2 separate regions of the Homo sapiens genome follow, and region 2 is reported to be linked to region 1. The links are microRNA targets in miRTarBase. Many come from high-throughput screens and were not tested one by one. Region 1 holds a microRNA gene; the other region holds the end of a gene's coding sequence.
The links. The annotated mature microRNA hsa-miR-933 reads UGUGCGCAGGGAGACCUCUCCC and lies in region 1 at 2,522-2,543, shown strand. An mRNA with a match to its seed (bases 2 to 7 or 8) in the 3' UTR can be bound and repressed. Matches are read on the target gene's strand: a 7mer-m8 pairs with bases 2 to 8, a 7mer-A1 pairs with bases 2 to 7 and ends in A, and an 8mer does both.

Region 1 (3,412 bases):
ACAAGACAGGCAAAGAAGAGGTCTACAAGAAGTTTCCTGCGTTTGTAAAGAGAAGACTGTAAAGAATTTTAGGACTCTTGGGGATATTGAGGAATGCAAAAGTGAGAACAAAGATGGAAAAGGGTGGCATTTTATGAGGATATGAATAAGTAGTGAGACAAGTTCATGGAATCAGACCTGAATATGGTAACTACATTCATTTTGACAATGCTGAATGTTTTCCCCACTTGTAGAAAAACTATAGTAAACAAACTGCTGTGGAACTAGAAATATGTGGATAAAGTGAGACCCTTTGTTAAATGCCGGGCTGCCAAAATGCATATATAACAGATCGGCATAGTTTCCACCTGTTTCCTGCGCCTATCTTATTTTTTTTTCTCACTTTAGGTATACCCTCTCTTTAGAAAATTAGCTAAAACTGAATTATCAAAACAGATCAGAGTACTGTTCATATCACTAAACAGTTCTTCTCTTGTCTAAAAAGAACTGAAAGACTTTCTTTAAAATAATGTGTTTCTCGAATGCATCATGTAGATAACTAACTGCTTGACAACAGACTGGAGAAGTAGCAATGAGAAATTTAAAACCAAAGCTACTGCCCAATTGAATCAACACTGGAAAAAATTTCAAATGGAAAAACAATTTTTTTAAAAAAATCTATTCTAATTGACCCAAACTTCTTTTGAAATGTCGTAACATTTGCAGTTCTTTTTCTCACATTAGTTGTTTTGGGAGATGGAGAGAGAAGCATCTATTTAATCAATGCGTTCTAGACCTAACAATTGTGATGTCAATCAAACATTTTGTCCACCATTTCCATCATGAGTAATCTGAACTGTGAGGTTTTGCTGACATAATTAGTGTTACACTACAATGGCACTACTACATTACTGTTACTATATGGGGACGGTACTTTCATTTTAAGTAGGAAAGTGTTAATAATTTGGCTTAATGTTTCTTAACTAAAATTAGTTTTAAAAGAGGACTGAGTTGGCTTATACACATGTATGCGGTCCAGAGACCTACCTGTTAAAATGTCAATGCCATTACAATTTCACTTTTATGCCAGATATCATTCTTGAACTTCAGGCTCATTAACTCTCATACTATCCCCCAAAACCTTTCAACAATTTTGAGAGTGTATTTTATGTTAATATATAAACTAGTTCATAATTTTGTTCCAGACTAGAAATCAGTATTTAATAAATGGAAAAAATAAGACACTGAAAATCTTTTATTGAATAATGTAAATTCTCACAGAGGCCTCTGATCATACTTTTCAACTTGTGCCTATTTATTGAATAACCAACATCCTTACAGTTAATATTAAAATCTTTAAGTTGTGTGGGGTTTTTTGGAGGGGAGGGATGGGCAATTACCAGCAAACTCCGCCTCCCCCAAACCTCACCTAACCCGAAGCTCCCCGCCTCAGGCTCCCGGGGAGCCAAGGGGTGGGCTGAGGAACGCAGCCTACTTTTACCCACCTCCCTACCTAGTGCTGGGAAGTGACGGAAACGGAGACACCCGGCTCCTGGGGCTGGGCTCGGAGGACCCATCCTGCTTTCCCTCTAGCAGCCTTTCCGGAGCTCACCACCTTTCCTCCCCTCACACCGCCAAAGCCCTGCCTAGCCCTTCACCGCCGCCTGCACCCGCGCCCTCCTCCAGCCGACAGCCAATCACAGTCTTCCACAGCTCCGGGTTTACAGAAGTAACGCTCCTTGGGCCCTCTGGTCCCGCCCCCTCCAGAACTGCTTCCCGCCCTTCGGGCTCCTTGTCCAATCATGAGCGCCCGAGTGCTCTTTGATGCCCGTCCCCTCTACCCGCCCTGCCGAAGACCCGCCTTCTTCTCCTTAAGCCTGACGGAATCACCTGACTCGGAGGCGCTCCCTCAGAAGGAAGGCAAGAAGGGGCGTGTGGGTGAAGGGGAGGGGCGCCAGAAGGAAGGTGGGGATGCCGGGAGCGGGGCGAGCGGGCGGGGGTTGTCAGTCCGATCTCGCGAGAGAGGACGGAAGCCTGTGGGAGCCCGTGGCCTTTAAAGTGCCGTTCAGCCTTTTCCTCCAGGGGTGCTTTGTAAACACGGCTGTGCTCAGGGCTCGCGGGTGACCGAAAGGATCATGAACTAGTGACCTGGAAAGGTGAGTAACGATGGGCAGAGGTCAGCAGGGCTGGAGACTGTAGGGATACGGAGAAAGAAGGCGCTAACATGGCGACGTCGCTCAGCACAGTCCCCACCCCCCGTTTCCCATCACCTCGGGTGCTCCTGACGTGCTCCTTAGCCCTTGGGGCGATTGTGGCTGTGCTGCCACCTCGGCGGCCCGCGCGGTGTGGGCTTTGGGAACCTGACTGGCTGGGCCGGACCGTTAGGTAACCAGCGTTCGTTGTTCCGGCCCCTCCCTCTCGCGCGCTTTCCTAAGGCAGAGGAAAAAGGAATAACGGCTCCCTCTTAGACCCCTCCCTCCGAATTATCTTCACCCTACTTGGGTCAGTTCAGAGGTCCTCGGGGCGCGCGTCGAGTCAGCCGTGTGCGCAGGGAGACCTCTCCCACCCACAGTCCTTGGGTTGGGCGGGGAGAGGGCCCACTCTGGTCTCCCCACCCAGTATTCAAGCGATTGAGGACCGTGTATTGGTGATGGTGGCGGGGAGGAGGATCGGGAGGCGCGGCTGAAAATAGAATCAGGGTCCCTGGCTGCGGTGCAGCTTGAAGGAAAGAATGGTGTGGAGAACCTAGGAGCTGGAAGTCTCGGCCTTTTCCGTCCTTTCCGCCACCCTCACAATCCCGCTACCCCCAGCTTTTTCCCGGTGGGGCGGGGCTTAGGTGTGGGTGCAGACTGATTCTGGTATTTTCCCTTATTTTTTTTTTTTTAAATCTCTGGGTGGACAGCAGAGCGTATGTAAAGAAATAATTTGCTTTTCATCAATGCCCTAGGGACCAGGGCCGAAAGGGAGTGTGTGTACGTGTTTTCTATGTTCGCTCGTTTAACCGAACCTAGGAGGAAAAAGAGAGGAGGAGCTGGGAACTATTTTTGTGCCCCTAGGTAGTATAAAATTGGCTTTCTTTAATGGAGAGTCTTAAAACTGGTGAGGCCAAGAGCAAAACTACTGTGAATATCATGGAGTAAAAGAGATTACTCCTGATGGACCTTAGGCATCAGAAATTTTAGTGAAAGAAATGTTTCTCTTAAAATTCAACACCTATTTTAAATAGTGATGTAAAGCATTTCTTTACATGTACCTTCAGGTTTTCTAATGCTTTCCTGGCTATTATTTAACTGGTACTAAGGGATTGACTAATCCCTAAATTATAATGTGAAAGTTTAAATTTCTTAGAGGTTTTAAATTATGGAGACGGTCACAATGCATGCATTTAAGATATACATTTAAAATCAGAACAAAAACTGACTTTCTTTGAGCA
Region 2 (3,412 bases), not on the chromosome of region 1:
CACTTTCAACATTAATATAACTATTTTTGCTTTTGTTTTCTTTTGGGGAAAACTAGGGCAAAGAAAATTTGATGTCCAGTGAATTAACCGTCAGAACAAGAGAACAGAATGCAGCGGTATGAACTTGCTTTTTGTTTCGGTTCATGCACAGTTTAGTCTCGGACATAAACCTAACTAAAATCAAATTTTGAATTTCAGCAGTTAAAAGTCACCATTAACAATTTTGTTTTCCCCTTCAAATAAAACAAAATATAACAAAAAAAAGACCAAACACCAAAGTGTTGTCAATTCATCGGTAAGTGTGTTAGAATTGATTTCAGCCATGAATGCCTTCAATGGCATCTACCTGGAGCTAAAACAAAGTATTCTTGTAGCCCAAACTCATGAAATGAAAACAAAGCATCTTTCATAACATGGTGTAAAGTAAGTATCCAGCAAACGTGAGAGGTGAACCCACATAAATCGGAAGGAATTTGTTAACAAAGACAGAGAACAAATTTTTTAAAAATCTGTTTTCACATTGTACATAAAAATGATATAAAAACAAGTGTCTATTTTTTCCTTATCCAGAGTGCTTAAAAACAAAACAAACAAAAACAAAAAAAAATTGGCTCTAGATGACTGTGGCAATTAAATAACTAAAATGAGTGATGAGAGCATAAGTTAATTAAGATTGAACACGACCCTCCTATTAATTCACTCCTTTGTTTTAAACATCAGAACTGATATTGTTGGGGCCAAAATTCTTAAAAAAGAGAAAACTTACGGAAAGAGAAGTAAAATTGTGGGTAAATGTGTGTGTGTGTGTGTATATGTGTGTATATATATGTATATATATATATACATATACATACATATATGAGTTGGAGATGGAAATTTGTTTTAAATATCTAACAGCTTATTGGCTGCACTTCCAAATCAGAGCAGAATAAAATAGAAAGGGAGAAATAAAATAAATTATACATAACTTACTAATCTGGGAACAGCTGACCATTATTATTATTATTACTATTATTATTATTATTTTATCATCATCATCATTACAACACTAGCAAAAAGAGGCAGTTCAAATGTAAATAAAGTCATCAAAAACAAACAAACAGAAAAACAAACAAAATGAAATCTCTGACATGCAGGATATGATCAGCTCCTCCAAGCAAAACCCCAGAGCAAGTCTTCTGAGAGAGAGAAAAATAAAAGGGATTCTTTTTTTATTTATATGTAAAAATCCAACTTTAGGGTGGTGTTTCGGGGGGTGAGATAGGAAAATGATGACTGGAGTGAAAACTATAGCACATCAAGCTACTAGTTGCAGTATTTACTATCTATCTGATACTTCAATACAAATAATGGCAATTGACTTGAAATGATTTTGCATTTATTTGTACAGGCCCTACAACTGCCTTGGCATTTGGCTGGCAAAATCTACATAAGCAGTCCCATCACATTCAGTTGTTGCTCTTTGCAAATACTCTGCTTGAACCAAAGTTGGACTTCAGTGGATTAATCTGACAGCAAGGGAAGAGCAGTGGCAAGGATCCCTGGGTGCAGCCAGGCTCCATTTTATTGGGCTGCAATGACTTTTAATTAAATCCTACTTTTTATGGCATGAACTACATATGGCCCACACTTCTGAAATGCTAAAGGCCTCCACCTCACTTCATGGAGGGGTGAAAAATACCTTATAAAATCATCAGTTTCATTTCCTGATCGGGAAAGGATGGAATGTTGAAGAAATAAGCTAATTCTATTTGTCTGAAAAAATGGCCAAATATATTCAATGAAAACAATGATTGTTTTGCTCAAAATATCAACAGGAAAAACAAAAATCACTAAGTAGCAAACGTTAATGGAACCAACTGACCAGGGAGAAAGGACATCTGGGAGCAGTTTGCTAGTAGCTTCCATGTTATACATGCACACCTCTATTACACAGGGCCACCTGATCCATCCAATAATAATCAGACATTTAAAAATATAATTTCTGAGCCCTATACTTGGTTAAGTTGTCATTTGAAGTGCAAAGTCAAGGTCAAGATTATTTCTAGACCAGTCACTTGGGAGGATGTGGGATTTCATCCCCAGATGTGGGTTTAACTCACAATGGTCCAACGTTATTCCTATTATTAGTACCATAATCACATACATACATACACACAAAAATCCAAGATCAGAAAATATTTTTCTCTAAATTTCTTATGTCTCTCTCTCTCTCTCTCTTTTCACCTGAGAACAGCACCTACAGTTTCCATTAAAAAAAAAAGTCAAATCTCACCAGCTGCTGGTATTTCAGGTTTTTCAAGGGATTGTCTAAGATTTAACACTGTCCTAACTTAAGAAGGAAAAGGAAAAAGTAAAGAGAAAAAATGAACTTGGTCAACACTTCAGTACAAATTTGGCACTTGCTCAAAGATGTAGTGTGGTGTGCAATAGATAAAGTCCTCTAAAGAAAATAATTGCTTATTTTGTGGTGGATAGCAAGGAAGTTAAAAACAGGCTCTTTTTCCCTCTTTCCCCTCATGCACAGACTTCCATCTTTAAAGTAGAGAGATGGAGAAGGTGGAGAGAAGTAAAGAGAAATTCATTTTTCTTTTTTTTCTGTCAGGTGCATTACAAAGAAAAAAAATGAAAGGAAAGAAAAAGAAAAGGAAAAAACCCAGAAACCCCAAAAAACAAAACAAAACTTTTTTCTTTTTAAAAATTGTAGCACAAAACAACAAAACACATTCACAAGCCACTTGTTGGCACTGTGTACCTGAGTGAGAATTTCTAGAACATTGTAGAACAAACAGCCATAAAGTTTATTTAAAAAAAAAAAAAAGTTGACGGGTAAGACTTCAGTGCTTGGATGTAGCAGCTGAATTACTGGCATTATTTTACCCATAGCTTATTTCAATCTCTTGTTGTTGATATTGTTGTTTGCTTGTTGTATTTGTTTTTTCTTTCCAAGCCTTTTGAGGCTGAGGTCTATTAGTCAGCTGATGTCCCAACTATTTAAGACTAACAGTTAAAGTAACAGTCAGTGTATGAGAAAGTTAATGTGCTTGGCCACTGGTAAGGATGAACCAGTTAGGGCTTCTTTAAGTCCTAAGGTCACAACAATCTTTTGACCCTTATCAGTTGGCTTGTCCTGCAATATGGTTTTCACTGTCACTCCCATAATCTACATCTGGATCATCCTCTTCCTCGTCGTACTCATCATAAATTTCTCCATTGATGTCCTCGGCCTGTATCTCTTCTTTGATATGTGGCTCCTCTCCTTTCACACCGTAAGTGCTCTGGATAACAGGCATCCCAGGCTCTGGGCTGCTAGACACGCTTGAGTGCTCCGAGGGCAGGTGAGGGGAGGGCATCCCAGCCATGGCGATGGCTCCAGGGTACACAACACCAGCAGTGGCAATGGGGATCTGTG

Region 2: miRTarBase lists SOX5 as a target of hsa-miR-933. The part of its 3' UTR that is shown has no 7-base or 8-base seed match.

What each region holds. Positions count from the first base shown.
Region 1 is chr2:175,166,773-175,170,184 of GRCh38, reverse strand. It overlaps MIR933 (microRNA 933), which reads left to right and starts at 2,476; the gene lies at 2,476-2,552. ATF2 (activating transcription factor 2) reads left to right here and starts at 1,982. Exons shown (of 14, transcript NM_001880.4): 1 at 1,982-2,135. RefSeq lists a silencer at 1,964-2,033.
Region 2 is chr12:23,531,103-23,534,514 of GRCh38, forward strand. SOX5 (SRY-box transcription factor 5) reads right to left here. Exons shown (of 15, transcript NM_006940.6): 15 at 1-3,412. The coding sequence ends at 3,117. Among named protein-coding and RNA genes, the nearest start is that of SOX5, 420 kb to the right of the region's middle.